4 separate regions of the Homo sapiens genome follow, and regions 1, 3 and 4 are each linked to region 2. The links come from fine-mapping of genetic effects on gene expression. A gene starts in region 2. Each other region holds a variant in brackets. All regions are shown on one strand. Distances are from middle to middle. Region 1 has its middle 36 kb from the start of HEAT2. Region 2 holds the start of ADRA2A (adrenoceptor alpha 2A). Region 3 has its middle 95 kb from the start of HEAT2. Region 4 overlaps LOC124902499 (a long non-coding RNA gene).

Evidence for each region.
Region 1: its variant is fine-mapped to the expression of ADRA2A in whole blood (INTERVAL, PIP above 0.99).
Region 3: its variant is fine-mapped to the expression of ADRA2A in caudate (GTEx, PIP 0.98).
Region 4: its variant is fine-mapped to the expression of ADRA2A in prostate (GTEx, PIP above 0.99).

The regions. Positions count from the first base shown.
Region 1 is chr10:111,145,929-111,154,035 of GRCh38, forward strand. No RefSeq gene overlaps it. Among named protein-coding and RNA genes, the nearest start is that of HEAT2, 36 kb to the left of the region's middle. The variant T/C (reference allele first, on the strand shown) is at 4,908.
Region 2 is chr10:111,072,006-111,080,112 of GRCh38, forward strand. It overlaps ADRA2A (adrenoceptor alpha 2A), which reads left to right and starts at 5,024. Exons shown (of 1, transcript NM_000681.4): 1 at 5,024-8,107. The coding sequence starts at 5,992. The coding sequence ends at 7,389. RefSeq lists a silencer at 4,987-5,036.
Region 3 is chr10:111,205,638-111,213,744 of GRCh38, forward strand. No RefSeq gene overlaps it. Among named protein-coding and RNA genes, the nearest start is that of HEAT2, 95 kb to the left of the region's middle. The variant A/G (reference allele first, on the strand shown) is at 3,782.
Region 4 is chr10:110,846,467-110,854,573 of GRCh38, forward strand. It overlaps LOC124902499 (a long non-coding RNA gene), which reads right to left. Exons shown (of 2, transcript XR_007062287.1): 2 at 4,174-6,475. Among named protein-coding and RNA genes, the nearest start is that of PDCD4-AS1, 20 kb to the right of the region's middle. RefSeq lists an enhancer at 6,328-6,377. The variant A/G (reference allele first, on the strand shown) is at 4,648.

The DNA.
Region 1 (8,107 bases), 74 kb after region 2:
TCAAACAAAAAATTAGCCAGTAACACAGGCAGGGTATTAGAAAAGAGCTCTGAAGGATGTACTACTAATCCAGTTCCTGTACATGGGGAGTGGAGCTCGAAGAACAATGTCATGGCAGATAGGCACACAGCCAGTGTTTCTCAGGAGGCAGGGAAGTCACCAATGGCTACTTCCTCCTGAACACTACTTCCTGGGGCCTGGGACCCTTTCCCCTTTGGTACAGGAAGCCCCAGAAGCCACAACCTGAGAGTTTTGAGGTGATGCCTCCTGCTGCTGTTCAGGAAGGGATGTGATGATGTGGCTTCTGCTGCTTCCCCTACTGAGGGAGGGGCATGAACTTGCCACCCTGATATGTCAGTAGAAAGCCTTCTGCTGGGCAGTGTTCTCAGGGTGCATAGTAAAGATGGGCATGTGGGTTTAGTCTGTTCTGGCACTAGCAGCTCCCCTGCAGTTACATCAAGGCAATTGCTCCAGACACTGAGAATGAAAGCCTTTCATGTGCTCCCTGGCTACTTGCCCACAACCCTGGAGTCTTGTATCTGCAAGTGCTGGATGGAAACCTCTGGTTGCACCTGGGATGATTTCAGATGGGACATACATGGGTATAGCATTAAATAACAGGGATCACGTGGTGGGAAACATATTCTCTTCTCAATTCTCCATCACTCCTTCTGATAAGAATCTCCCTGAGACTTTGTCCTTGATGTACACAACTCCCAGCACCAGACCAACTTTCATTTTCTTTCTGACACTAGCAGGATGAGCCAGCTCCAAATGCTTGGAGCCTGTGAGAGGCAGGAGCATCCAACTGGAATTCCATGGCATTGAATTGGATTTTATTGTATTTCTCTTTATGGCTTCCTTCTATTATGGAAGGTGGTGCTAGTTTTCTCCTTATAGAAAGGAGGTAAATTTTGTGTGTAAAATACATTTATTTTAGTAAAATTAGGTGAGTGGATTGAAGGCAAACTTTCTAATGATACATATCTGTCAGAGTTCTACCAGAAAAAACAGAGGCATAGGAGATATATAGGAAGAGATCTATTGTGAGGAATTGGCTCGTTTGGTTGGGGGGTGGTCTGGCTAGGCAACTCCAAAATCCACATTGCAGGCTTTCTGGAAGGGCAGTCTGGAACTCTGAAGCATGGGCTGACTCTTGAGTCTGCAGGTGGAATTTCTTCTTCATCAAGGAAGCCTCAGTTTGGCTCTTAAGGCTTTTAAGGCTGATTGAATCAGACTCACCCAGATTACCTAGGATAATCTCTTACTTAAACTCAACTCATTATGGGCCTTAATCGCATCTACAAAATACCTTCACAGCAACACCTAGGTTGGTATTTGTTGGAATAACTGGGAACTGTAGATAGCTAAGCCGACCTGTAAACCATCTCATTATATAACAGCAAGTGATACAGAGTCTGGTCCAGGCTGTGAAGGAGATCAGTAAATGATGAGCAGTTGGCAAACCTAAGCCTAGCAGGTAGGGGGAATGGCTAAGATGTTAGAGTCCGGGTGAAGGAGCCGGGAGTTTGACGTCTGCCTGGGAGTGAGGCTTTTTATGTTGGGTAAAGAAGGCAGTAGGGGGTGGGACGTGAAGTGGCAGGGAGCAGAACACAGCATCCTGCCTTTTCTGCCTCCTCTTCTTAGGTACCTTTTCCAAGGGGCCAGCTTTTGCTTGCTTCTACTGCCCTGATTTTATCACTGGTATCTGTTCTACTTAATAGGGATAAGTTTATTCTTAGTCTCTGAAAAAGGTGGATGCCAATCATTTAACCACACAGTGACTGCAGTGCTCACAACCCCACCCTATCTCCCATGGCACCCCTTTTACTGAAGACTTAGATGTCAGAATTATTGATAGACTTCATTTTTGCAACTCTGCAGTCACCTCATCCAATGATAATGGTCACCGAATTGGAAATGGAATTACATAATTATTAATCATCAAATGGTTTTTTTCTCCAGATTGAAGAAACAACTAGGACGGTCCAGAGGGAACTTTTTCTGTGAAGGCAATTAGAAAGAGATATAGAAATTGTGCTAAGATGAGAAGATTGACCTTATGCAAGTCTCCTGGGGACAGGAGGAGGAGGGGAGAGGAGTCGATTTTACTTTTTAAAGACTAGGATTTTCTGTTTCCTATGGAGACCTTAATTAATTTTCTGGACGGTGAGCTGTGTCTTTGTGAAACACAGAGAGCTGATCAGATTTCCGGGGCCTGACCTTGGAGTCATGGTGGTAAGCCAACATTGCTGCTGACATCTGAGATTGACGTGCTGACAGGTGAAGTGTGGCCTGGAAATCTCTTTTCCATGACTGCCAACTGTACCGTTGTTTGTCAGGGTAATTGCTTTGTGCCAGGCCTCTTCCCGAGCTTTGGAAGCAGGAGTTCCTGCTGGTAGACCAGTTGAAGGGTTGGATCACTTCCTAGTGCTAGTGAGGGGGGATGGGGGATGGGTAGGTTTGGGTGCCTCTTTATTATCACTGGTATCTGGGAGGCAAATACTTTGCTGAGGGTCTCTAGGGGTAAATTGTCATAAGTCCATTGATATGAGAAAAGTACATTTTAACTCTGTTTTTGCGGTCTGAAATTTTCAAGTTTGCAGATAACATCAAGCCAGATAAATAGGTCTCATTTCAAGGGCCAGCCTTAACAGAGTGGTAGGGGTTGCCTGGAGGGCAGAGAGGATTCCAAGCCTTCCCTGAGTGGAAAGGGGAAAGGATGATGCAGCTCTTACTAAAGTCCGTCACGGTTAGCGTGCGTGTGGGTAAGAAAGTGGCAGAGGAATGAAAAGCCAAGCTGATAGTGATGAAACTATAGAATGTAAAGGTGAATACGACGACCAGTGGAGAATTTCTCTGCTCTGTTTCCTCAGTTAGATTGCAAACTACCTGAGGGCAGAGTTTGGGACTTGTCCATTCATAAGACAGTGACTTTGTCATGTCTGCTCCCCTCAGAGCTCTGATCCTGCCAAGGATATTCAGCTGTGGTGATGAATAATGCTGATTTTTCTGAAAGACGGGGAGGTAGGCTCGTGGCTCACCTTGGAGCAGCCCTCCACCTGAGTCTCCTTTGGATTATTTGGGATTTGCATTTGGCTGCATGGGATGCTAGCTTGACTTCGTGGCTTAACCCCAGGTGGATTTATTTTTTCTCACATAACGAGAATTCTGGAGGTGGAATTGCCACGGGCAGCAGCTCTGCCATGGTGTCAGTTTTCCAGGTGTGACCTATCTTTGCACTCCACCATCTCTAGCATGTGGTTTTCATTCCCCTGCTCGTTGTCACGTGGTGGCAAGATGACTGCTTTCCCTGTTGGCTTCAGATCCATGGTCCAGGTAGGAAGGAGAAGAGGGGAGGGCATCAGACACTTGCTAGTCTCTTTTTATCAGGAACATCCAGCAGAATTCTCTTTCCGTGTGTTTATATCTCACTGGCCAGAATTGGGTCACATGGCTGCTTCCAGATGCAAGGGGATCTAGCAGGGTAATTGCTTTGTGCCAGGCCTCTTCCCAAGCTTTGGAAGCAGGAGTTCCTGCTGGTAGACCAGTTGAAGGGTTGGATCGCTTTCCAGTGCTAGTGAGGGGGGATGGGTGGATTTGGATGCCTCTTTACTATCACTGGTATCTGGGAGGCAAATTTTCTGAGGGTCTCTAGGGGTAAATTGTCATAAGTCTGTTGAGATGGGAAAAGGTATATTTTAACTCTTTTGTGGTCTGAAATCTTCAAGTTTGCAGATAACATCAAGCCAGATAAATAGGTCTCATTTCAAGGGCCAACCTTAACAGAGTGGTAGGCGTTGCCTGGAGGGCAGGGAGGATTCCAAGCCTTCCCTGGGTGAAAAGGGGAAAGGATGATGCAGCTCTTATTGAAGTCTGTCACGGTTAGTGTGCATGTGGGTAAGACAGTGGCAGAGGAATGAAAAGCCAAGCTGATAGTGATGAAACTATAGAATGTAGAAGTGAATACTAAGACCAGCGGATAATTTCTCTGCTCGGTTTCCTTAATTAGATTGCAAACTACCTGAGGGCAGAGTTTGGGACTTGTCCATTGGTAAGACAGAGTGACTTTGTCATGCCCGCTCCCCTCAGAGCTCTGATCCTGCCAAGGATATTCAGCTGCAGTGATGAATAATGCTGATTTTCTGAAAGATGGGGAGGTAGGCCCGTGGCTCACCTGGGAGCAGCCCTCCACCTGAGTCTCCTTTGGATTATTTAGGATTTGCATTTGGCTGCATGGGATGCTAGCTTGACGTCATGGCTTAACCCCAGGTGGGTTTATTTTTCTCACATAACAAGAATTCTGGAGGTGGGATTGCCACGGGCAGCAGCTCTGCCATGGTGTCAGTTTTCCAGGTGTGACCTATCTTTGCACTCCACCATCTCTAGCATGTGGTTTTCATTCCCCTGCTTGTTATCTCATGGTAGCAAGATGACTGTTTTCCCTGTTGGCCTCAGATCCATGGTGCAGGTAGGAAGGAGGAGAAGAGGGGAGGGCATCAGGCACTTGCTAGTCTCTTTTTATTAGGAACATCCAGCAGAATTTTCTTTCCATGTTTATACCTTACTGGCCATAATTGGGCCACATGGCTGCTTCCAGATGCAAGGGGATCTAAAGGGACATAGAGAGGTTTTATGCTTAAGCAAGAAGGGCAGAACAGACATTGGGTAGACAAACAGCAAGGATAAGCACAGCCTCCCAGCCACCTCTTGCCCTGCCCCTGTGCCCTGAAGACATACCCTTCACCTCCAACCACATTCCTTCCAGCTTGTAGCCTCCCAAGGATCTTCTTCTGCTTCCTCCCCAACCCTCTTCTACTCCTGCAGCCCCTGGGTGGTCACGGAGATGCTTTGCTCACAGATATCTTCTCTGTGGGGAGCACAGTTGCTGAAGAGACTCAGCTGCC[T/C]ACTTTTGGGTCCACTGTGACGTTCATGCTGAGACCACGCTTCCTGTGGGCCCCACCCAGCCAGTGACTGAGCACAGTGAGGACACTAGAGTTGGCCATTCCTGCTCGGTGTGGGACTCCTCGAATGGGCAACCTTTGCTCGGAGCCTCTTGATCCACCCGGCAGAGACTTTCCCAGAGCTGGTCTACACTCTGAGGCTCTTTCTAGCCAATCTTCCTTTTTCCCTTTTTCTCCTGTTGTTGGTGTTAGACCTGCATTGTGACCCAAACATTCTCCTCTCCTCTCCTGCTCCCTTTTCTTCTATGCTTTACAGACATTTCCCCAAATAAATCTCTTGCATATCTATTGCTCTCTTGACATTTATTTCTTGGAGGACTGAAACTGACATGCCTGCCTTCCAACATATTCGTGTCCTTTCTCTTACCTGGAAAATTTTCCTTGTCTGTGATCTTTGGTTTGCAGTGAGAGAGGCATAGTTTTACCTGTAATCTCCTCGTTATCCCCTGACTTCTTATAACAGGAGTGTCCAAGATGGATTCTTTGTTTGAATTCTTAGGCTACTTTTTTTTCTTTCCTTTTTTACTTTTCTTACTTTTTTTTCAAAATCAATCAATCACATTTGTTGAGCATCTGTTATGTGCTAGGCCCTGTTGTAGGTGGTAGGGGATACCAAGATTTATCTGTCTGAGGCCCTACCCTGGTGGCGTTCACAGGTTGGTGGGTTTAGGAAAGAGCCTCATTTTCCATTGGTGGATGATATGTTCTCCCCACCAACCATCTCTCTAAACTCTGGCACCTTTCTTGTCCAGCATTTCTACCTTTTGAGCCTCTCTGCCACTTTTCTGGCAAATTACAGAAGAAGCAAAGCAGTTGTTGCCCCTGCATCCAGCACATCAGAAGTCCAGGTAATACAGGCCTGGAGTAACCATGGCAACCTTAATGGAGCTCAATGACCCAGCATAAATCTGGCCGAGCTCATTGTGAAATGTGAGGGAGCTCTGTCTGCTTCAAACCGTTTGGAGGGAAAGGTGCCTTGCACTCCGTGGGTGACTGACAGAAGGTTTCCCCAGAGCGCAGAGGAAAAGCCGGGGGATGCGACACTCAGAGTGAAAAGGAAAGGAAGACTTGATGTTGACGAGGAATGGTTTTCTATGGTCTGTTGACATGGCCTGCTGAACCCGGCTGACATATTCATCTGGTCATTTATTTCCATGCTCTGGGCCTGTCTTGAGCTTGCTAAATACATTTAAAAAAAGCTCCAGCTATGGAAGGAACATGAAACATTTTCAATACAACTACACACGTGCATGTGCACCCACCGTTTCAGGCATGCAGATGAGATGGAACTGCCTGGTGCTCAGCTCCTTAACGAATGTCCGTTCTCTCCTTTCCCTTTACCTGGCTGGGAAGGGCTTCACGTGGTGTGTACTGCTGATGCCGCCTTTTGTGCTCCCTTTGCTGGAAGCTGCCTTCCACATATCCTCCAGGCTTTGACCCAAGTGTCACACCCTCAGAGTGGCCCTCCCTGACACTCAGAGCAGGTGCCCACCCTTGTGACTATCATCGTTTTCCTTTTTTTGTGTGTGTGTGTTCCCACACTGATTTCTTTTTGTGCCTGTTTGTGATCATTTTCCTCAGTATTGCGAATTCACAGGGAACTACAAGGAACACTTCAATCTTGAAGGATTTTTTTCCCCTAGAAGCTGCTCTTACCTGTTCCTCTAGATGCTGTGGCATTTAGGTAAATTCTGGCTGCAGGCAGTCCATTCATTCTCACCTGTCTGAGAGCACAGTGCTTCTACTCTTGGGTAGCAGGGAATCAAGCATAGAGGAGCGGTGTGGGAGGGCAGCAGGAAGAGCTGGTACGACTCTCCATTTCATGTGTGAGTGTGGTGCTTATACCCCTTTATACTATTGCTTTATTAAAAGCAATCTGAGCTATGTACAGCAAGCTGGGAGGTCGCAGGTAGAACCACACAAGTGTCTCTATTTAATTCACAAGCTGATTACCTCCTGCTGTTTCTAAAACAATAAAAGGAAAAATAAACACTCCTCAACCCTGCCTGTTTTGAACTTCTCTTTCAGAAGATGCAAGTCCTGATCCTTTGGTAATAGCTGTGCAGTAGAAAGGCTTGTGTCTACTGTCACTCTCCTGGGTTCTCATCTCCTACCTCCCTTGCAATCCTGATAGGGATAAACAAGATTACTGATCAATTGAATGGCCTATGGCTGGAAGATAATTTATTTTTTTATTTTTATTTTTTGCCTTTTCTATTTTTTTTTTCAATTTACTTTAAGTTCTGGGATACATGTGCAGAATGTACAGGTTTGTTACATAGCTATACATGTGCCATGGTGGTTTGCTGCACCTATCAACCCGTCATCTAGGTTTTAAGCACCACATGCATTAGGTATTTGTCCTCATGCTCTCCCTCCCTTTACACCCCAGTGCCCCAACAGGCCCCAGCATGTGTTGTTCCCTTCCCTGCGTCCATGTGTTCTCATTGTTCAACTTTCACTTATAAGTGAGAACATGCAGTGTTTGGTTTTCTGTTCCTGTGTTAGTTTGCTGAGAATGATGGCTTCCAGCTTCATCCATGTCCCTGCGAAGGACATGAACTCATTCTTCTTTGGGGCTGCATAGTATTCCATGGTGTATATGTGCCACGATTTCTTTATCCAGTCTATCATTGATGGGCATTTGGGTTGGTTCCATGTCTTCGGTATTGTAAATAGTGCTGTAATAAACATACACGTGCATGTGTCTTTATAGTAGCTTGATTTATAATCCTTTGGGTATATACCCAGTAATGGGATTGCTGGGTCAAATGGTACTTCTGGTTCTTAGATCCTTGAGGAATTTCCACACTGTCTTCCAGAATGGTTGAACTAATTTACACTCCCACCAACAGTGTAAAAATGTTCCTATTTCTCCACAGCCTCGCCAGCATCTGTTGTTTCCTGACTTTTTAATAATTGCCATTCTGACTGGCGTAAGATGATATCTCATTGTGGTTTTGATTTGCATTTCTCTAATGACCAGTGATGATGAGCTTTTTTCATATGTTTGTTGGCTGCATAAATGGCTTCTTTTGAGTAGTGTCTGTTCATATCCTTCACCCACTTTTTGATAGGGTTGTTGATTTTTTTTCTTGTGAATTTGTTCAATTTCCTTGTAGATTCTGGATAGTTAGACCTTT
Region 2 (8,107 bases):
GTGCTGTCTTTTTGGTATTGGCCAGAAGCCCTTGCAGAGATAGAAAACACCTGGCTTAATTTTCCAGGCTGGGGCAGGATGGGTTAGCACGTTAGAAAGAGATAAAGGCGATGGCAGGACTCATCGCTTGTTTTTGTGAATACAGCAAGACTGATCCAGCAGTCAAATGATGAACATGGTAGGTGGTGAATAAGGCAGCTCCTTACAGCACCCCTGGAGTTGATGCTTTTCTTTTGGCTTCCATTAACCTTCAATAACGATGGGATTCCCAAGGGCTTCAGCACAGGTACAAAGAAGTGGAGGAATTAAGTAATAGCTTAGAGGAAGCAATAGAGTTTTCCCTATTGACTCCCCCCTTCCCCTTGTCAGCAATACAGTGAGTTGACAGATGATTGTAGCTTACTGCAGCATTTGGTTCCAGCTGTGCACACGGCATGAGTAGTAGCGGGAACATTGCATTCCCCACCTGTTCATCATGTTCAGACTAGCAAGTGTGTGTTTAAGTTCAGGCTGTGGTGGGGGCAGGGGTGGGTGGGTGGGGGGGTGGCCTGTGTTTATGTGTGTGTGTGACCAAATTGCTTCTATCTGTGAGGATTTTGTCACAGCCTAGGAGTCCAGGCTAAATGAGTCATGTTTTCTTTTTCTTAGACAGTCAAGTCTTTTTTTTTCAAAAAGTAAGCAATTAATATTCTCTCCCAGCCAGCTCCCTCACTTTTGTTAGATGAAGTCACCATCAAAGACATAGAAGCCAAGACAAATTTTGGTATTGCCTGATACTTTAGTTTCAGATATAACATGAGGACAGATGATTTATCTTAAGAAGCTTTCTTTTATTGGCAAATTACCTAGCTGATAGTTATAAATTTATCTTCCTCTACTTACATATTCCTTTTAGGAAAAAAGAGAATGAGAGAATCCTATACTTATATCCTTGAACTAGTTAAGCTACCTCAACTATTAAGAAATCCTGATTTTGGAATAAAATGCTAGCCATCGTAGTCACCAACTTCACCAACTTCTGGGCCCCTCTTGCCTCTTTGATAGCTTCAGTGTAAGTAGAATTCATTCATTCATACATTCATCCATCACACATTTATCAAGTATCCATGCTCTGTGTGTTATATTTTGGTATTTATTGAATTACTCATGCACTTGTTAAAAATGCAAACACCCAGGCCCCGCCTTCATCCTACTGAATCAGAATCTCCAAGGAGTAGGTACTAGAAATATGATTTTTAAAAAGCCTGTTTTAGAGATGCTCTAGGAATAGAGATGAAAAGGACAGTCCTTTCTACCTGCTAGATCATCATACAAATGAATAGATAAGCTAGAGCAAGAAAAGTCCATCTAAGCCATGATAAAATATGTATGGCACCCATGAGAGAGAGAGGTTGCTTCTACTAGGAGGAGGAGGGGTTGCCTAACCAGTTGGTGTAGTGCTTGCTCTCCATCAGCTTGGCTGTTGGGGAATGGTCAGTCTCCTAGAGTGTATGTGACGTTGCCTCCAAGAGTGGGCATTAGATACAGAAAGAGGGAATACATCTTGCCTTGTACTGTCCTAATCTAGTAGACATCAATGGACTGAAAGGACAGGGCTAGAAGGAGGATGTGCTAACTTGTCAATGTGCTCATTTCTGATGAACATTTTGCAGGTTTCTCTTTGGCAGTGCGATCAAGGCTGGAGATTCACAGTAAGGAACTTAGAAAGCTCATTGGGCTTACCACCAGGAAAAATAGAGTTCGGCTCTGTCCTTGCCACTTATTAGCTGGACAGTTTACTTAGTCTGTTGCCTAGTTTCCTCCATCTACAAAGGCAGATAATAAAATCTACATTATGGGATTGTTTTGGGAATTATATAATATATAGTACATAAACTGCTTGGCATTGTGCCTAGCATGTGGTTGGTGCTAATAGGTACTATTTATTTTTAGTAATAATATAAGTAATAATGGACCCCCATTTGGGTCCCCAGAAATGACTCCTTCTCAGGCCATCAAACCCAAACTCCATATTTACAGTGGCTCTCAACTATTTGCTCTGTCCCAGCTCCCTGGAGGGCTATGACACTGTCATAGCAGTCTCACTGGCTCAGGGCAGTGATTCTCAATCTGGGGCCCACTCTTTCTAGCTCAAGTTGGCTTCCTACCCCGGGTAATTTGGACACTGCCTCCTGTCCCCACAAGGGCACTTGCTCATCACTCCTGTCCCCCACTGAGATTTATTGCTTTGGGTGGTAAGTCTTCAGCAGGGTGTGCACACCTGCAGCTCTCAAGGAGTTTTGTCAAAATACACATGCTGCATCCCACCTTGGACCTGGTGAATAATTTCCCTGGTGGGGCATTGGTAAGTGTATTTTGTCTTCCTAGGAAATGCTGATCTATAGGCCTGGTTGAGAATTATTATATTTGTGGATATCTTTCTGCTCAGCAATGTCTCACTCAGCTTGCACAGCATGAAATCTTCTAGCAAAAATTAATGGTGTCCACATAGCTTTTCAAAGCTCAGAGATACTGACCCTGTGTGACAAACTGAGGAGGCAGAACCTTTGGTGATAAGGAACATGTGACAGGAATAAGAACTCTGTGTATAAAGGGGCCATGTATATCACCCTACACATGGTGCATACATCATGGTACTTAATAAAATGCAGCACTTGTTATTATTGGTATTCGTTGTGTATTGGCCTCAGGGTTCCTGGCTCTGAAAAGACCTGTTCCCATTTTAGGAGAAAAGACTCCAAATCAGGGAATTAAGAAACCACCTGGCTGTTTGGGAAGCATTTAGAAAATATGACAAGAGGTGTCATACACAGGCTAGCAGCAGAAATTTCAAGAAAGATAATTACTGTAAACTTTGTTTTTATTTCCTCTTTTGATTCTGAAATTAGGAAGAAGAGCAGTGTGTTGGAAGCTGGGGTGCAGATGGTAAGTGATGGTCTCCTAAGACTCAGTTCCCGAGTTCTACAAACAGCAACACAGCAAACCCCAGATTGCCACGGGCTCTGATTTTTGTCTCTTAGTATTCATACTTGAAGTGTGGGGTTCCTAGTTGCTGTGCAAAAATGACTGTAGCCATGTTTCCAACTGAGCCTACTGGCGATGTCCAAAGCCCCTGCCAAGAGCCTCAGAGCAGAGACTTTAGTAGAAGATGGAAAATGAGTGACTCAACAGAGCGAGGAAATTGTCTTCTCAGCTTCCTTTAGATTGTCCAGAAAGGGAGATTAGAAAGGCTCCTCAGAACTAACACTGGAAAGGGAGTTTATACCATTAGGGCAAAGATTGGGAGACAAAGGTACTGAAGTCAAATGAGACTTCTGTGAAATACTTTGGAAAGTACAGATTTTGAGACTACATGAACAGCAGCAGCACCAATAACTGTATCACTGGTGCGGGCTATAGACATCAGCTGGGAATGAAGGTGATTCTCAGGGCCCTTAATTTAGCCATCAGCCCCCAGCCAGACCTAAGCCTGCAGCTGGCTGCACAGAGAGGCAGCCTGTTCCATCCTTGGAATTCCAACTTAGGTGACTGCACAAGGCATTTTGGTTTAGTGGTTCCTTAAATAAGACGACATTCCTTTAAGTCTAATCTCTCTCCTGCTGAAATTTCCTACCCTCTTGGGTTTTACCATTAAACTGCTTGCTCTCATCTGAAAAGTGCAGCTAGCAGGGTGCAAGCTAGTGCTCTAGTGACCGTTAAAATCTATCCTAGGACAGCTAGCACGCACGGAAAAACTTGCCATTCGCCGCACACCCACTCCCCCCCGCCCCCACCGCTATTCTTATCAGAGAGAACATGGAAAATATTCTACTCCCTCTTCCCCTTATTGAAGGATGCTGTGTGTACATCTGAATGGGGGTGGGATGCGGGGCGGGAGTGGAGTCTAGCTTTCGGTCCTCAACAAAAACATAATGATTCCCAGCAAGCCAGAGCTGTGCAACCAAGGAGGCAGGATCCTGGCCTCTCTCGGATCTGCAGGAAGGGTGGGCTGTGCGGGTCCAGAGTGGGATGCCCGTTCTGGCCGGCGGTGCCTGCTGAGCCCTTCCTGATGTGACTTTATTAGACAAACCCCCACTCCCGCCAGGGGTAGACACACGAGTATCTGCTTTAGGAAGATTTCTGCAACACGGCAGGGTGCAATTCAAACTCTGGGTTCTCCTTTCCTGAGCTTAGAAACCAATTTGTTCGGAGATAGGAGAAGGCTCTGTTGGCAGAAGACCTAAGAGACGGGAGGAGGCGCCTGGCGTCAGCGGGTCGCTTCTCAGCCGTGACCACGAGCGGCCAGCAGGTGTCAGTGCGTCCTCGCTTTGCCCTGGCGCTCGGCTCCTGGACCCCTCCCCACCTCGGTCTAAGGGGGCGCGGTCCAGACCCCGGGTCTTGCGTTTCCCGCAGACAGCATCGCGGCTGGGAGGACACGTAGCCGCTTCTTCCCTAAGCGGAGGTCTGAACTCCGGCTTGTACCACTTCCCCGTGGGTGCTGTCCATTCCGCCCCAGGGGTTCCATCCGAAGCCGCGCCTTCCTCCCTCTCCAGGACCCCTTTCTCCCCAGCCTCCAGGAGCACCTGCGGACCGCGTCGGCTCTGGCCCGGAGCTGGGCTGCTCCAGACGTAACTCACACCGGAGGTTACTTCCCTCGATTTGGGCGGGGATTCCCTTCCATTTTTTTCTTCCCTTTTCTCCCAAGATCCAGCTTCTTGGGGGCACTCACGGGTGCCCGTTGCGTTCTGCTCCGTCGGCCCGGAGCTGCATGGCCAACTCCCAGCAGGGGCCGCTCCTCCCCTACCCCCCACCCCCGGGCTCCCTCTTTAAGTCTCTAGCTCAAGGTACCCGCCTCTCCAAAGGGCTCGTCCCGCCTGAGGGCAACGCTCCCCGAGGTCCAGCGCTAGGCGCGGGCGCTAGACTGGCGGAGGGGTGGTGCGAGGGGCGGGGGAGGGTCGGCTTCCCACGTGGGGGCTGACGCCGGCTGCTCAGCAACGCTTGCTTGATCCTGGGGCTATAAAACGAGTCCACCGTGAGCGCAGCGGAGCAGCAGCAGCTCCAGCTCGGTGCAGAAGCCCAGCAGCCGGCGTGCCGCCGCCCGGCCACTCCAGCGCCTTCTTCCCCGCCTTGCGCTCCTGCCCCAACTCGCGCTGTCGTCGGACCCCGGCCCATCCAGCAGCGCTCGGCGCCCACCAGGCGGACGCCCAGGAGAACCCCTGCCTCCGTCGCGGCTCCTGGAGAGCTGATCGTTCACCTGCCCCGGCCCGCCTGAGGACGGGGGTGCCTTCATGCGGCCCCCACACTCCTCACCCCGCCGCCGCCGCCGTCCCGGAGCTCCGCACAGTGTGCCCCAGCCCCAGCAGGGCGCACAACTTTGGAAGTCTCGCGGCGCTCCGAGAGGCGGCAGAGTCCGCGCCCCAGCCCCGGGCCGGGCCGGGCCAGAACCGCAGCGTCTGGGGGAAGCCAGAGAGTCGGTAATCGCTTCGGGGATGTAAGGCGACAGACATAGGACCCCCGAGCTCGCATCAGCACCCTTCGGCTGCCTCCCGGGGTGGGGGCGGGCCCCGCACACGGTAAGACCTCTTGCTTTCGCTCAGGCTCAAGATTCAAGATACAGATATTGATATGTATATATATATTTAATTTCCTGTCATCCTTCCAAGTTATCAGGCCACCGATGATTTTTGTTCTCCCTTCTTGAAGAATAAATCTCTCTTTACCCATCGGCTCTCCCTACTCTCTCCCGCCGCTTAGAAATAAAACTTGGCTGTATTAGGAGCTCGGAGCAAGAAGGCGCCCACCGAGAGCGTCTGAAGCGCGAGCCAGGCGCAGTTCGCGGGACCCGGGCCATGGGCCGCTAGCGGTCCTCCAGTTCGGGCCCGGCCTCCCTGCGGCCCCCTCCCTATGTGAGCCGCAGCCAGGCGAGCGGGGCGCCGGAGGAAGAGGAGGACCCACGGGCGCCGGGCCGGAAGGCAGCTGGCAGCAGGCCCAGGCCAGCGGGCGCCCGCGTTCATGTTCCGCCAGGAGCAGCCGTTGGCCGAGGGCAGCTTTGCGCCCATGGGCTCCCTGCAGCCGGACGCGGGCAACGCGAGCTGGAACGGGACCGAGGCGCCGGGGGGCGGCGCCCGGGCCACCCCTTACTCCCTGCAGGTGACGCTGACGCTGGTGTGCCTGGCCGGCCTGCTCATGCTGCTCACCGTGTTCGGCAACGTGCTCGTCATCATCGCCGTGTTCACGAGCCGCGCGCTCAAGGCGCCCCAAAACCTCTTCCTGGTGTCTCTGGCCTCGGCCGACATCCTGGTGGCCACGCTCGTCATCCCTTTCTCGCTGGCCAACGAGGTCATGGGCTACTGGTACTTCGGCAAGGCTTGGTGCGAGATCTACCTGGCGCTCGACGTGCTCTTCTGCACGTCGTCCATCGTGCACCTGTGCGCCATCAGCCTGGACCGCTACTGGTCCATCACACAGGCCATCGAGTACAACCTGAAGCGCACGCCGCGCCGCATCAAGGCCATCATCATCACCGTGTGGGTCATCTCGGCCGTCATCTCCTTCCCGCCGCTCATCTCCATCGAGAAGAAGGGCGGCGGCGGCGGCCCGCAGCCGGCCGAGCCGCGCTGCGAGATCAACGACCAGAAGTGGTACGTCATCTCGTCGTGCATCGGCTCCTTCTTCGCTCCCTGCCTCATCATGATCCTGGTCTACGTGCGCATCTACCAGATCGCCAAGCGTCGCACCCGCGTGCCACCCAGCCGCCGGGGTCCGGACGCCGTCGCCGCGCCGCCGGGGGGCACCGAGCGCAGGCCCAACGGTCTGGGCCCCGAGCGCAGCGCGGGCCCGGGGGGCGCAGAGGCCGAACCGCTGCCCACCCAGCTCAACGGCGCCCCTGGCGAGCCCGCGCCGGCCGGGCCGCGCGACACCGACGCGCTGGACCTGGAGGAGAGCTCGTCTTCCGACCACGCCGAGCGGCCTCCAGGGCCCCGCAGACCCGAGCGCGGTCCCCGGGGCAAAGGCAAGGCCCGAGCGAGCCAGGTGAAGCCGGGCGACAGCCTGCCGCGGCGCGGGCCGGGGGCGACGGGGATCGGGACGCCGGCTGCAGGGCCGGGGGAGGAGCGCGTCGGGGCTGCCAAGGCGTCGCGCTGGCGCGGGCGGCAGAACCGCGAGAAGCGCTTCACGTTCGTGCTGGCCGTGGTCATCGGAGTGTTCGTGGTGTGCTGGTTCCCCTTCTTCTTCACCTACACGCTCACGGCCGTCGGGTGCTCCGTGCCACGCACGCTCTTCAAATTCTTCTTCTGGTTCGGCTACTGCAACAGCTCGTTGAACCCGGTCATCTACACCATCTTCAACCACGATTTCCGCCGCGCCTTCAAGAAGATCCTCTGTCGGGGGGACAGGAAGCGGATCGTGTGAGGTTTCCGCTGGCGCCCGCGTAGACTCACGCTGACTGCAGGCAGCGGGGGGCATCGAGGGGTGCTTAGCCCCAGGGCACTCAGAAACCCGGGCGCTGCCTGCTCTGCGTTTCCTCGTCTGGGGTGGCTCTGCAGCCTCCTGCGGGCGGGCGTCTGCTGCTCCTACAAGGGAAGCTTCTTGCTGCCAGGCCCACACATCCCCAGTTGTTGGTTTGGCCACTCTTGACCTGGAGCCATCTTCCTAGTGGGCCACCCCTAATCACTATTGCTTCCTAAAGGTATTTTCACCCTCTTCGCCTGGTACAGCCCTCACAGCTCTTCAGAGCAAGCACTGGACTACAAGGGCATGGCTCACAAAAGGTTAATGGATGGGGGTTACCTAGCCCTGGCTAATTCCCCTTCCATTCCCAACTCTCTCTCTCTTTTTAAAGAAAAATGCTAAGGGCAGCCCTGCCTGCCCTCCCCATCCCCCGCTGTAAATATACACTATTTTTGATAGCACACATGGGGCCCCCATATCTCTTGGCCTTGGTTTTGATGTTGAAATCCTGGCCTTGGGAGAGATGCCTTCCAGGCAGACACAGCTGTCTGGTTCAGGCCAAGCCCCTTTGCAATGCAAGCCCTTTCTGGTGTTATGAAGTCCCTCTATGTCGTCGTTTTCACCAGCAACTGGTGACTGTCCCTTCGACACGGACCTGCTTTGAGATTTCCTGACAGGG
Region 3 (8,107 bases), 130 kb after region 2:
TCCTGGAGTCTTGCTTTCTCTGTAGTCCATATTGCAGTCCCACTTTCATGAGGACAAGTTAGCAGCATATGCTAAATTAATTTCTGAGATCTTGGCTACTAAGTGTTTATGGTTTAATAACCACCTTCCTGGCTACTGACAGAGGAAAGAGATGGGAAAACACTCAGAATCCATAGGGATGACTCTGTAACATGGAACTCCAGGCTCTACCAGAGGTTGGGGAGAAAATCACCATGTAGGAAGTGGCTAACTCTAAGCCCCTGCTAGGCTACCTTCTGACCGTTTGAGAACATCCAGTACTTGAAACCCTGCACCTAGCGTTTTTGTTTCTCTGCAGTTGTTTAGCTCCTCTTCTTTCTGGTCTCCTTTGCCTTGATTTTTCTCCACTAAAAAGTGGAGGAAAAACAGAAGGAAACAGCCATCTCCCTTCAAATGGGCTGTGTTCACAGTTTCCATGGAAAGAACCCGCCCCTTGAAGGGCGGCAGAAGAGGTGTTAGAGTCTGACAAATGTCAAGAGAAATTGATCACAGGAAGGTAAGATGCCAGGGAATCAATGCTGTCCCTCCTGGGGAGACACATTGGACAGACAAGCTGTCAGGAAGGACACGCACAGCTTGTACCTTGTAGCTGTGTTTGGGGTAGAGGAGGGAGCCACCTCCATCCATCTTTGTTTATTCAACATCCTCAATGTGTGCAGTATAGCTCTCAGTGATATGAAGGGTACATATGTGATCTCTGGCCCCAGGAGCCCCAGACTCACCAAGGAGGCAAAGCATAGAACTCAGGAAACTCTTGGCAACTCATCTTGAGGATGTTAGGTTCTCAGCCAAGGTTCAGGAGACCCAGAGGTGAGTTCATCCTACTAGGCTCAGAGCAGCTTCCTGAGAGAGCTGAGCCTGATAGCCATAACAGCAGGGGTGACTATTTTTTAAAGCCTGTTCACATCTTCTTTGCACAGAGTGAGACAAGTCAGACATGTTGCAATAAAACTCTGTTCATAACACTAGGGAAGGCTCATTCTGGTGCTTGGCATGCTAAGTGCTGTATGTCTGTCAGCTGCTCTAGTAAGTGTTATTATTTTGTTGTTGTGGTTTTCCAACCTTTTTGGTCAAAGTCTCAGACACCATGCCTGGGTGAGGCTGTCATTGCAGAGGTATACTGCTATGACTCACTTGAAAATCCTTTGATGGCTCTGAAGCCCAAATTTCATTGTGGTCCCCTCCCCAGGAAATTGCTGCTCTACTTATGGACTTAGAGAAGTTACTCTGTTCCTGGGCTCCTGACGACCTGTCCCAGGTCATCACGGCCATGCCCCTTGAACTGGATGCTTCTGCCATGCTGAGCTATCATGTGGGTCATGCGTACTCATGCCTTTGCCCAGGTAGCTCCTTCTATTCCTCAGAATGCTGCTTCCTCCCACCGTGCTCCACCTGGAGGACACCTACTCATCCTCAAAAGCTTCCAGCCTCAGCCCTTCCCCTGCACCTCTGCACAGTCTCAGCAAAGAAGGCTGAAGTGCTCCTCCTTTGTGTCCCAGCACACTGGACACACACTTTCATCACAGCAATTCCTTTGCATCAATTTTCCCACCAGCCTCTAAACTCCTTTAAGGGTGGGGACTGGACCTTGCTCACCACTCTTCCTTCACCCAGCTGCTAGCACTGGCCTGGTCCATGGTAGGTCTCTACACATGTTTGTTGAATGACTAAAGGACAATGAGGGGGATAGAAACAGCACCAGACTGAGAATCAAGGGACATGAACTCTAGACCAAACTTGGTTGGGGAGGAAAATAGCTTTGTGACCTTGGCCAAAGCAGCCCCACCTGTGTGAGATTACCTTCACAAAAGCACTTGGGAAGTACACATAAGAGGTCAAGGTTCACAGACAGCTGTCTTCATTTCAGGGTAGGCCTGTGACCAATGTGGAGAAGAGCCAGGGGACATGCTTCTCATCATGAATGGAAACACACAAAGGTTGGCTTCATTCCAAATATGAAGCCCTCAAAGCCAGTAATTTAGTTTAATCATCTACATGAATTGAATGTTTAGTTCCGGAAAAGATGCACAGCGCCTGGAGTTTGGTTCCAGTGCCCCCTGTTGGCTGGGCTGGATGACTTTGGGGAAGGCCTCTGACTCTTCAGGTACCGCAAACGTGCTTGTCTATTACTTGTCAAATGTAATTGTCAAATGTAGCTGCCCTCACAAGGATGCTGCAAGCATCACGGCAGGTGATTAACAGGAAAGCACTTGGGAAGCCATGGGGTGCTTAGAAACAGAGGGGTTGCAGGAGTGGCTGCTGTGGGAGGCCCCCCATCCCTCCACCCCAGGTGCTGAGAGTCTCGGCCTTGAGGGTGCACAGCTGTGGCCTTCTCCTGAGACCTGTCCTCAGGGGTACAGGTGTCTCATCACAGAGCATCCCCTCCACTCTCCCTACCTCTGACAGCCCCAGGCATGGCAGATGACATGGAGGAAGGCTGGCCTCCTTGCCATAGGAGGGGAACAATGTGTGGTGCAATTGGTGCCCCAGCATGCTCCTCCAGGGTAGCCTGTAAATCCCTAAGCAGTGTCTCTTAAGTGCATTGCTGTCATAGTCATTCGGTAAGTTCTCCAGAGAAGGTCATCTAATCGTATATCAAATATCAAAGTCAATAATAGAATAAGAGTGACTATAGCTTTCAAACACAGCCTTCACAGCCCTGGGGTTCTGGAGGCATGCCACTGGGACTGCTGGTGTGTGTGTGTGTGTGTAAAAGGGAGCCCAGAGGGTGGTGAGGGCTCCCCTGGACTATTCACCCTCCACATTTTGATGATGAGGCAGCTGAGGCCCAGAGAGGTGAAGTGGTTTCCTCAAGATCACACAGCTAGTCAGAAGCAGAGCAGCGTTCAGAACTCAGCTTCCCTTAATCCAAGATGAATACCTTTTCCATGGCACCTCTCCACCAGCCAGAGCCCTGCCAGGAAACACAAGTCTGATGGATGATTTGGTGAAAGGAAGACTTTCAGAGCAATGGGCAGGGTTATGAGGATCAACAAGGGATATTGAGGCACCCACAGACAAGCAAGAGCAGGGGTCTTTACCACCTCTTGGCTTGAAGCATCAAGGTCAGAGAACAGTGTTATTGGAACCCAGTGAGAGCTGAGGGGGGAGAAGTGGCTGCCCAGTAGGGGCTGACGTGCAGAGGGGAGAAGACCCTGCCAGCACAGTGGCCCAAAGAGGGCCCTCTGACCCCTACCCGACCCTCGAATCTTCTTGCCTGCTGGTAGGCAGGCAGCAAAGGAGCCCTGAAGATGCATTTCCTGGAGGCCACCCCCAGGGCAGAGAAGGATGGAGATTGATGCCAAGGAAGCAAACAGAATGACCAGCACAACTTCATGATGCAGCCATTCCCTCCATTCAGGGTAGTGGACGGTGACAGGGCAAGACTCCAGCACATTGCAGGGCAGCTTTCCTGGTCCCTCTGTGTAATTTGTAGTGAATTTGGTATTTGTGAATGTGCCTCGTGTTCCCTCAGCTTCAGAGCCATCTACTGTTCTGAGAGGGGCTTGTCTTCCTGAGGACCATGGTGGAGGAAAATGCTCCTCTTGTGAGACAAAGGGAATGAGTGACAGGACAGAGAATTTCCTGGACGGCTCTGTACCAGAAATGTACCAGGTTCCACAGTAGATGGGCTCTGCAGAGTTGGCATGAGTGATTCACAGGAGTGTGCTTGGTGAGTTTGGACAAACATTGAAATTGGGTTTTGCTAACAAAGCCCTACTCCACCATGAACAGGCAGGGT[A/G]CCTTGAATCCTAATTTTCAGATTCTGAGGGACAGCATTTGCATGCTGTCTCTATGAAGAACTTTATTCAAAGCTCACTATTGATTGTGGTCTTGCAGGTCCTAAAGAGAAAACTTGCTTCTACAGAAATTTATGATTCATGAAATGCTGTCTCCTTTATAAATTCTTACCCCTGAGAAGCAGACCCTCTCCTTGGCAGGAGTTCTTCAGGGAATACCCTGGGGACCAAGCAACACTCCAGTTATTTTTAAATTGAGCATATTCACACTGATTTCAAGGACAGTGTATGCGCTTATTGATTCAATAAACATGATCCTGCATAAGGAATTATTGAGTAGAAGGCTATGCTGGAAGGTGGAATTGAGAATCTGCCCTCACGTTCCCAGAACTCAACAGGACCAAAGGAAGTGATGCACGTTGAAACTATGATTCTGTTTTACACGGTCAGGCATAGAGCATCTGCCACTACAGCCTGTTGGCTGCTTGCCTTGCCATGCAAATTTGCTTTCCATCCAGGCCAATTTGCTCTAGTGAGGGTCTCCCTGGATGTCATTAGCAATGCTTTATCTTCTGATTATGTGAGGAGTGTTGTGTCTCTGAACATTATTGCCTGCAGATTCTGGTGAGTGCAGTGAAGAAAGTTGATGGTATCTCAGTAGATCGTCTTATTGACCCTTGGGAAGTTTCTTCCTCTCCTTTGCATTCTTTTACTAGGGCTTTAGAAAATCTGTTTAACTTCGAGATATTCCCACATTATATAGGCTGGATATGCAAACATCAGCCTACAAGGATCAGCTCTTTGAAATGTCTCATAAGTCTTAGCAGAAATTGTTAGAGAAGCTGAGGTACAGCTTAGCTTATGTAATTATATGGACAAGCTGGGCGTGGTGGCTTATGCCTGTAATCCCAGCACTTTGGGAGGTTGAGGTGGGTGGATGACTTCAGTGTAGGAATTTGAGACCAGCCTGGGCAACATGGCAAAACCCCATCTCTACTAAAAATACAAAAAATTAGCTGAGTGTGGTGGCACATGCCTGTAGTCCCAGCTACTCCAGAGGCTGAGGCGGGTGGGTCACTTTAGCCTGGGAGGTCAAGGCTGCAGTTAAGTAATGATTGTACCACTTGGGCAACAGAGTGAGACCCTGTCTCTCTCTCTCTCTATATATATATATATGAACAAGCTAAGAATGCCTCTACCTTTTAGTGTTTGGTAGCGGTGACAACTTATCAGCCATTTCCTTTTCATTCCTCTTTTACTCAATAAATATTTATTGAGAAACTATTGTGCATAAGGCATGTGGTAGGCACTGGGGATATGGCTATAAAAGAGAACCAAAAAATCCTGTGTAAGTGTAGCTTTTTATTTAAAATGTGTTGGAATCTTTTGGTTCATCCATCCATCCATCCCCCATCATCTATTCATATGTTTGTTTCACATTGACTTGCATTACCACATAGTTCCATGTGGCTGAAAGAGCTTCAGAGAAACACTAAGCCCCACGCCATTATCTATAATTTAGCTAACAGGTCAAGTATATCTACAGCCTATGCAGACTGTGGAGACCATGGTGCCTGAGACCCTGTTAGTAGGACTGGAGGATTGGGGTATAATGTTTCCCATGTGATGAGAAGGATATAGAATGTCATTTGAAAGAGGGAGAAAATCTTATGGTCCATAACTTTTCTCTGGTAGCTCTTGATATTTAAATTTATAACCTTTCATTGATTGCTGCATGCATTCATTCAAGAAATGTAGATTAATCTTCGGCCATTTGCTAAGTAATAGGAATATAGAGATGAATACAATGTCATCTGTACCTTCAAAGGGTCACAGGCTAGAAGATTAATCTAATCCTCAGGAAATATGAAGCTAGAAATCAAGATGTGTCTCCTTTGTTCTCCAATCTCAAGCTATTTGACAGTTTGAAAGAAGTGCTCTTTGTGTACTCATGACTCTTTTCCCAGAAGGTTGGGTCAGGTTCTCAACATCCCGTAGCAGTGGACTTCAGCACCTGCACCTGCACCTTTGGGATCCCTTGGTGGCAGGGTTTCTGGCAATCAAATGTTCATGTAGACTTGGGCTGGGTGTGGAAACCCAAGGGTAGCATAGAATTTTTCAGCTGGCGTTCTGGGGCCAAGACTGCCCAAACGTAAGTCTAGCTCTTTGCTTACTAGTTGGATGACCTCAGGCAAAGTTACTTACCTCTTTTTCCTCCCATTTACTCATATGTAAAATGGAGATAATTATAGTCTGTAAATCATATGTAGATCTCTTCTGTATGGAAGTGTGGTGGTGGGGCACGTGATTGTGTATTTCTTAAAATGCATAGAATGACAAACCACAAAGAATATATTTTACTGTATGTAAATATAGAAAAATCAACCAGGGTGTCTGTATGTGTGTGTGGGTGAGTTAGAATGCAGACTTAGGGCAAAGGAATGTAACTGCATTTAAAACAAATCACGTAATTCCACTGAAGGGAAGAAAGGAGTTAACCGAAGGAACCTTGGAATGCAGTGTATCTAGTAAAACAGGCAAAAGAATTGCACACAAACATAATACTCTAGTTGATAAACTTGTTTCTCATAAAGGTTTGGGTTAAAAATTCTGAAGCTGCTTAAATTTATCCTGATCATGACTAATGATTTTTGAATCTGAGGAATCTCTCTTTTACCCTGAAAAATTCCTACGTCATGTTTTTGGATGTATCCTTTCCTTCATCATCTATTTTCCTTACTTCTTGCTCTTTATTCCATACTCCTTACTTCTCTTTCACATTCCCCATCTGCTATCTCTATGCAATACTTTCAGTAAATTTTGATATTGAATGTCCATTTACTGATACTCTCTTTGGTTGGCTATGTCTACAGTTTAACCAGTCATTTACCTATGTTTTCTCTTTTTCTTTAAATTTCAGTGATTATATTTTTATTTCATAAAATTCTGTTTAAATATGTCTAAAACCAATTTTTTTCTAAATTATCCTTTTATTGACTCGGAGCTTCTATACTTATGTTTATCTTTTTGAAAAATATTTTACAACAGTGTTAAAAATGTTCCATTTAATCTATTTTAACTTTATTTTTGGAAAATTTTACGCTTACAGGAAAGTTCCAAAAATATTACCAAGAAGGCCAGTAAACCCTTTACCCTGCCTCCCTGTATATTAGTGTTTTACATAACCATAAAATAATAATCTCTGAAATTAACCTTGGTACAGTATCATTAAACTACAGAATTTATTCAGACTTCAGCCATTTCTCCACTAATGTCCTTTCTCTATTCTAAGATCCAATCAGATCCCATGTGGCATTTATTTCTGTATTTCCTCTATCTCCTTCAATCTGTGACAATTTCTCTTTCTTTCTTTGTCTTTGGTGACCTCAACACTTTTGAGGAGCACTGGTCAGTTATTTTGTAGATGGTTCCCTCAGTTCAGGTTGTTTTAACATTTTCTCCTGATTATACTGAGCTTATGTATTATTGGGGAGATGCTGCAGAGGTGGTGTGCCTTTCTCAGTGCCTTGCACCAGGAAGCACATGATATTGATAAATACTACTGATGATGTTGACCTCAATTCCTTGGTTAAAGTGGCATCTGTCAGGATCCTTCACTGTAAAGCTACTATAGTCCCCTTTTTAATTACTAAGAATTTTGGAGATACTTTGAAACTATATAAATATTCAGTTTCTGCTTAAATTTCTCCCCACTCATTTTAGCATCTTTTTATGGATCTTGTCTGCATTGATTATTTTTGTGGTGTTTTAATAGTGATTTTGTATTTCCCTGATTCTTCCACATTCACAAACTGAAATTTCTTCTGTAAAGAAAAGTTGTCTTGTTTCCCTTTCTCTCTTTTTTAATTTGTCTTAACATGGACCTATGGAGATTTATTTTATTAACTGGGGGTGTAATTCAGTTCTACCCCTACTTGTTTTGTTGCTCAAGTTATTCTAATTTTGGCTACTAGGAATTCTTTCAGGTTGGCGTCTGTGCTCTTTCAACATGGCACCATCTTTTTAAAAAGCACTTCTTTAATTTCTGACGTCAGAAGAAGATGCAGACTCATCTTTCATTTATCCTGCCTCAAACGTGGTATCAACCTGTTCTCCAAGGAGCTCTTACTTCTTTTATTGAGAAATGGTAATTAGAAACCAAGTTCTGGGTGCAAGGTGTGCTCACTGCAACCTGGATATCATTGTCTTAGCAGACAGAAGTAGAAAACATGTGTGTGTGTGTGTACTAACTCATATACACACACAGCTCTCTCCCATTCCCCACTCCAAAATACAAAAATGCTGGGTTCATATTGATACATCCCACC
Region 4 (8,107 bases), 230 kb before region 2:
TTTCTTCCTGAGCTCCTCCTGAGCACAGCCTCTCCCCTTATTTATATTCCCATTGCTGAGCACCCAGCAAAGGGCATGGCACACTCAGCATACCCAGGACTGGCTTCTTGCATGATCCTGTCACAGCAACAGCGTTCAGCTCAGAGAGGTGGGAACTGGCCAGTCAGGGTGCAGCCCACCCACATCAGCAAGAGCCTCCTGAGCTCTCCCAGGGGTCTTCTCCAACCATGAGAACACTGAGACTCCACAGCTGGCTGCTGGACACTATAGGGGCCAAGGACCCAAACACTAGGGTGCAGCTGGGTGGCCAAAGTGGGGCTCCCTTCCTCCCTCTCTCTGTAGACTCATCCTCCCAGCTTTTCCCTTGTTTTTCCTAAGGTCCTGGGGAAGCATGATCTTCTCCCCGTAGGCTGCCTTCCTGCTGCCCCTTCCTCCTTCCAGCTCCACATTTCCCCAGTTATGAGGCTTCTTCATCTGGGGGAGGCCACTCATCAGCATGTTGTCCAGCCTTTTGTGGCTAGTTTTTACTTCAGGTGTGGGGATAGGTGTGTGACTTCGGCCCCTCTGATGCCTTGGTCTCGAGCCAGCTAGGCTAATGCAACCCTTCTGCTTTGGGATGAGACAAATCCCCCAAGCTCTCTGCAGCCCAGATTTCCCACCTGAGACAGCCCAGCCAGCCCAGGAAAGCCATATGAACCCTATGCTGCCCATCCTGCTTCTTCCACTGAATTGCAGGGTGACTTGATTGGGTCACTTCCTTTTCCCCCTACCTCCCCTCCTCACCCCCAGGCCTTTTCCTCTCTGGAAATGAGACCATCATCCTGGCCCAGCCTCCTTCCCTCCTGGTGTGACGTAGCAGAGAAAGACATCAACCTATTATTTAAACACGTGTGTGCAAGTGCCTGTGTCTGTCCACATGTGCATGTGTGCAAGTGTGTATGCGTGCATATGAAGCTCCCTGAGAGCTGTCACGTTTGGCAGTTTCAAATCTGAGCCTTCCCGGGATGCCCCATCACAGGTAACACTCCCATCCATCCTGGCCCTGGGCTGCAGCCGCTCTATCTGCCTGTTTCTTTTGGCTCCTGGTTCAACAAGTATTCCTGTGGGACTATGCAAAGCCTCTATCTCTTTCCTCATCCTTGCTAAAGAAAATTTTAACTGCCAAGCATTTACTCCTCTCTCTTTTTCTTATTAAGTAGAGCAGCTCAATCAGCAGGGTTGGGGAAGAGCCAGAGGAGCGGGGCTGGGGAGAGGCCCACCAAGGATGGTTGAGATGGACTTCCAGAGAGAAGAGGAAAAAGCGGGGGAGGAAGAAAGAGAACACACTCTCACACTCTTTCTGGGGAAGCAGTCAGGGATGTTTTGAGGTGTTTTGGTGGAGAGTAGAGAGAGAATGTGAGGCTTCTGGGTTAAATCTCCAAAAAAAGGAGAGATTTAACGACATGTTGCTATGTATTGCATATCTGATCTCACTTTATGTTCTTTGAAAGATCCGAATAATATTTTTCATCTAAGAGGGCATCAATTGTAACTCTCTCATCTTTATTTTTTGTACAATTAAGAAAGAAAACGACACAGTCAATTAAACTCTAACACACATTTGTTAAATACATCCTAGTTTCAGGAATGTTAAAATGTAAAAAAAATTGTGTGTATTAAAATATATGGATAAAGTTCTTTTAGATTTTTTAATACACAACATGCTGGGACTGGACTGCATGGGGCTCTTAAACTTCTTCTGCTGACAGTCGTGCATCTGGGTCAGGTCCTCTCCTCCTCACCCTGTTTTCACCCTGTAGCCCTCATAGCACCTACTGCATGTGCCTGCACATAAGACAAACTCATTTAAGCAGTTAAAGGTTGAGCAATCACGTATTCTCAAGGGGCTGTAGTCAAGTCCTCTCCTAGTCTTCATAGATTTTTTTTTTTTTCATTTTAATGACAATCTGAAAGATGGGTAGAAAAATAGGTACATGCAGCCAGGCACAGTGGCTCACAACTGTAATCCCATTCCTTTGGGAGGCCAAGGCAGGCAGATAACTTGAGGTCAGGAGTTTGAGACCAGCCTGGCCAACATGGTGAAACCCCATCTCTACTAAAATACAAAACTTAGCTGGTCATGGCGATGTGCGCCTGTAAACCCAGCTACTTGGGAGGCTGAGGCAGGAGAATCACTTGAACCCAGGAGGCAGAGGTTGCATTGAGCTGAGATTGCACCACTGCACTCCAGCCTGGGCAAGACAGCGAGGCTCCATCTCAAAAAAAGAAAAAAGAAAAATAGGCATATGCACAGAACCATATCCACACATTCCCCCATACCCATACCATAGTCTGGACATCTGGATGGTCAAATGACTTGACCCCTCCACCCCCCACACCCACCCATGTATGTTTAGGTTTACGATAGCGTTGGTGCCCATAGTGTATTGATTGCTCTGATTATCCCAGGCTCTTGAGGAGAGTATTGATGGAGACTTAGTACACAAAGAACATATTTGTGCATGCAGAAGGCAGTGTGGTTTGCAGTGGTTTAAGAAAGAAATGTCTTTAGAGACTGGGGACAGATCAGATTGCCTGAAGGGAAGGAGGTTTTATGGCAGAGCCCTTAAAGACTTCCATCATCTGAGGGATATGCAAAGAGCCTGAGAAGCAGCGGCCAGAGAATTAGGAGGAAATCTGGGAAAAGTATGGCATCGAGGACATCTGAGAATGAGAATATTTCAGGAGTGAAGAGTTTTGTTTACTAGAGTTGAATGCTCCTGATTGGTTGTATTAGTTCAGTGTTTCAGTAATTCTGAGAGTAAGTAAGTAGATTCAGAGTGTTAAATGGCAAAAGTGAAAAAGCTCAGACAGGTCAAATCGCATTTGAGTGAGTGCCATTTTTAAACTGCAATGGCTGGTGTGACATAATGAATTTCCATTGACTTATGAATGGTCTAGAGAATCATTCTCCATCCCCAGCTTCTAATATCTGAATCCCTTTTGCCTTGATCTATCAGCCATGCCTGAAGACCCACTGGATTCCAATTCCTGAATCAAGTCTGGCTAAGATAGGGAACATATAAACAGTCATACCCCAACATTGTTGATGGGAGCCACAGAGAGAAGCACCTGCCCTTGCAAACACACATAGTACCCACCACTGCAGACACACACACAACCTGACCAAACCTGGGTCTGGTTGCCTCATCCTGCCTGCTGGGCTAAGCCAGACTGGCTGCAGGACATGGTGCCCTCAGGGGCAGGGATCCTGCCTAAGAATCTTTTCATCACCTTTAATCCATTCTCCTGCCTGGTGCTGGCCTCAGGTTCTCCCAGGAATAGGCCCAGCCACTAGCCTAGGCACTAACTTCTTTTACCCTATTGAACTGATGTTTTACATAAGTTATTTTTGCCTGTGCAATATCCCTTCCCTCTTGTTCCTGCAAGAAAACCACTGCTTATTGCGGGAACCCATTCCCTGTGATTTGCATGGGCCCATCTGTCCTGTCCTTCCCAGAGAGGTGTTCACATGATCCAAGCCTGATTAATCAGAGAACCTCATCCTCCTCATCACAGCAATTGATTCAGGATGAGGAACATAATCCAAATGGGCCAATCAAAATGTTCCCTGTGATTTTGTCAGTACCATCAAAAAGACACACTCTAATTCTGAGGTTGCTAGCTGTAAGTCAATGGTTCTCGAAGTGTGGTCTGCAGATCCCTGCATGAAGTCAAAACTATTTTTATAACCACATTGAGATTTTATTTGCCTTTCTCACTGTGTTGACATTCACACTGATGGGGCAAAAACAATGGTGGGTAAAACCACTAGCACCTTTGCTGTTCTGTGGGAAAAAGTGAGAGGCTAGGAGGCTGAGCGGTAGTCAAATGAACGCTGTGCTGCCCATGCTCTGCCCTGTAGTTACAGAGATCATGTCCACTGTCATACAGCTCCAGGGCACCATGTAATATGGTAGTCTATGAGAGTGGTCCCATCAGAGTTGTTCAGTGCACAACCTACATGGGTGTGCCCAGTGGTCCTGAGAGCTGTGCTCTCCAAACTATGTTCCATGTGACTCTGGTGCCACAAAATACAACTCACAAAAGAATGCCACAGTTAAATAAGCTTGGGAAGGCTGCATTCTATATACTTCTCTCTTGAGACTCTCAATGGAAAGCCACACAGAAAGGTTTCACAATCAAGTAACCTGGTTATTTTATTAACCCCTGTTTTCCCCAACTATTTCACCATGCAATCATTTTAATTCAAGAAATATTTATAATGTACCATGGAACACTGAGCTTTAGCAAATGCTCTTAAACACCATTACAAACTTCATGACAGCAGAGACTGTCTTATTTTCTGCAGTGTGCAGTATGCTCATGGCCTGATACGGTGCCTGACACATGAGAGACCCTTGAAAAATTTGTTGAATAGATTAATGAATCCATGAATGATTGATGCTTTCACAAGTATCTGATCTCCTTAGTATTCTCTATATTTACAAAAGGTGAGGTCCTTGTAGTGCATTATTTATGTTATTTTGCCAACACTGAACTCTGTGCTGTGGTCAGTTGTCTTCCCAAAATGATATGTTTTTCAGGATGCAGTGAGATTTTATGCATTTGATTATGTTCCCTCCGTGAGCGGGGCTGGGCAAGCAC[A/G]ACTGTTTCCCATTACCCAGCCTCTCTGAGGCCGCCCTTCTTCTGTGGTTTGAGGTGGAGAAGCAGCACAGGCAAGCCCTTCCCAGCGGTTTTTGTGTGGTTGACAGAGACCTAATGCCAGCTTTGGAAAAGGAAAGGCCTTTAGCAGCTCTGACTCTGCTCAGTTGGGAAATAACGAAGCCCCTGGGACGTATTCTCTGGAGTTGTCAGGCTCAGACTTGTGTTTCCTTCTTTGAGAAGGAAGGGGCACCAAGAACAGGAGTGAAAGTGTCTTGGAAACCCCAAGGTTTTAGAAAATGCAGGACTTGGAAGATTGAGGCCAGAAAGAGAGAGAGCGAGAGAGAGAATGAGAATACTTTACTCTCTAGTATCCTCAAGTGCAGGGGCTGACAAACTACAGCCTGAAGCCAAATCCAGCCCACTGTCTGTTTTTGTGCTGCCCTCAAGCTAAGAATCAATAAAAAAATTAAAAGAATATTTTATGACATATGCGAATTATATGAAAATCAAATATGAAATACATAAAATCTCTTTACACATCAGCATTAGCAGATGAACATTTGCAATTGATTTTAATGATAGAACACTTTGAGCCCCAACTAAGGAAAATGCTATTTATGAAAAAAGAATTTTAATCTTCTTATTAGGAGATATGTTTTATCTAAAAACTGTATTCATTATTATACTTTGAACTTCACTAATACAAATATCATAGGAATTTGTTTTCTCTTCTGCTTTTTAAGTACCTATATCATAACCTCGATTTTGCCACTTGCCTGGGAATCCCAGATTTGTTTTGAGACAGAGTCTCACTCTGTTGCCAAGGTTGGAGTGCTGTGGTGCCATCAGGCTTATTACCCTGCCAGGCTCAAGCAATCCTCCCACCTCAGCCTCCCAAATAGCTGGACTATAGGTACTTGCCACCATGCCCAGCTGATTTTTAATTTATTTTGTAGGGGCGAGGTCTTACTATGTTGCCCAGATGTACTAGCTGATTGCTTACAGAAAATGTCTGCCAATCCCCGCTCAAGTGGATTATCTTCAATGACTTAAGCTGTTTTATATGGCAGGGGAAAAGGGAGCCTAAGTAGATTCTTCCTATATTCATTTAGTCACCAGGTTCTTCTAGGAGTCTTCTATGGTCCTGAGTGTGCAATTGGTGAACAAAGCGGACACATGGACATGGTCACTGTCCTCAGGGACTTTACTATCCAGAGGCAGGTCACTGGAAATTGATCAGCCTGCATGTACATGTCGATAGGATGATGAGTCAAAGTGAACCCTGACAGCTTTGGAATTTGAAGTGTGTCAGCTGGTCAGTGAGTCACATTGCCCAGGGCACGGCTACCTAGAAGTGCTCTGTGTGAAACCTACCGGGAGGAAGGATCAGGTGAGTGCCATGAGACCAGCAGGGGAAAAGCCAAGTCCAGGAATGTCAACCAGGATAGGGCTGCTCTGTCATATTGATTCAGGCAGTTGGTCAGAGAGTTAGGCAAAAGCAGCACCAGCACATGAAAAACAAGGTGGAGAGCGGCATCCCAGGGCAAAGCTGCCTGCTAAGGCCTTCTTCACATTTTCTGCCTAGGGTAGCTAATGAGACGCCTTAGCCTCTAAGAGCTCAAGACTCCTGAGCACAGCAAGGGTGCAGGGATGGTCCTCTCAGGAGGCTAAGTACTTCTTTGTAACTTTGTTTCATTTATAACTTTGTTTCATTTCTTTGTTTCATTTGTAGCTTCGTTTCATTTCTTCAGATTAGAAATTTTTTTTTCCTTATGGCTGCAGCCTTTAGAGGAGTCCACAGTAATCGCCTTTTGTCCTCTCAGAAAATCTGTGGATAAGACAACAGGCACATCATCTTTCTCACAACTTACCACTGAGGAAACGGTACAGAGAGGAAGAAAAAAAGCATCCCAGAAAGGCAATCTAGATCACTCAGTGACTACCGCCTAGCACCTCCAGGAACAGAGGCAAAAGTTGAAAGCAGGGTGTGTCCCCAGGACATCCCTGCAACTCACCCTTTCTCCTCTGCTTCCAGAAACATCCAAGCAATGCCTCTAGGGCTAGTCATAGACTTAATCTTGTCTGCCTGGGTCCTTAAGATCTCAGATAGAATCCTGTAAGCTATTCTTGCTAACCCTATACCTCGGGAGCAGCCTAGCAATGTGAAATGAACATGGGCTTTGGGGCCGAATGAACCTCACCCAGAGCCTGGTTCTGCTACTCAGTAGCTCCATTATTTGACCTTGGCAATGACAACTTCTATAAGCCTCAGTAAATTTACATACAAAGCAGAGAGAATACTTTCAACTATAAAAAATGCGTGTAAAGAGAAGAGTCTTCTTCCTCACCAATCCAATACCCTTCCCAGACTTGTATTAATAATGCTTTGGTTCAAATACCTCCAGATTTTCCCTAGGCTTATACTGACACAAATATGTATAGATATAGATACACATGCATATTTTCACAAGCTACATATTACTGTACATATTGATCTGACACTTGCTTTGTTTCTATTCAACAATATGTGTATATCATTTCAAGTCAACACAGATAAAATATTGTACTATTCAGTGACTGTATAATATTCCCTAATATGGATAAATGATAATTAACACAACCTACTGATGGATGTTTTTCTTGGTTTAAATGTTTTTCTATTACAAATCTTGCTGCAATGGATGTACAGGTTTATGAATCTGTGTTATTATTTCTGTAAGACAGAGTACTGAACATGGGGTTGCTGGGTCAAAAAGGACACACATTTAACATTTTAGTAGATTCTATGAAATCACCTTCCTCCCAAAGTTGTGCCAGTCTACACTTGCATTAGCAGTGTGTGAGAGAACTCCAGATATCCTTGCAAGCACTCTGTACTATCAAGTTTTTAATTATTGCATTTCCTTGACAACAGAGAACATCTTTTTATGTTTATGGGCCATTTGCCTTTCCTCTGTGAATTCTTTGTTTATATTTCTTTCCTATTTATCTATTTGGATGTTTGAGTTGTTCTTACTTATAGGCACTTTTTGTACATTAAGCATAAACATCTGTTGGCAGAGAGAAAAGACACTGTGTTTTGAAGCTCCCAGGGGTGAGTATCAGGGTCTGAAGCAGGTACTGAACTGCCAGAGGTCTGTGTTTGATATTAGGAATATTAATCTTTCATGTTTTAAGTGTTGCAAATATTTTACCTAGGTCTATCATTTTTTTAAACTTTGTGCTGTCTTTCATCATGTGGAAGTTTAAAATGTTTCAATATTCAAATCTATAATAGTTTTCTTCATGGCTTCTGGGTTTCCTGTCTTGTGTAAGCAGTCTCCCCATGCTGATGTTATGTAATTATTTTCCTCTGTTTGCTTATAATACTTTTATGGCTCCATATATTTATAATTGCATCTTTAGTATATCAGAAATTTACATTTGGAATAGATGAAGAATTTATATTCTCAGCATACAG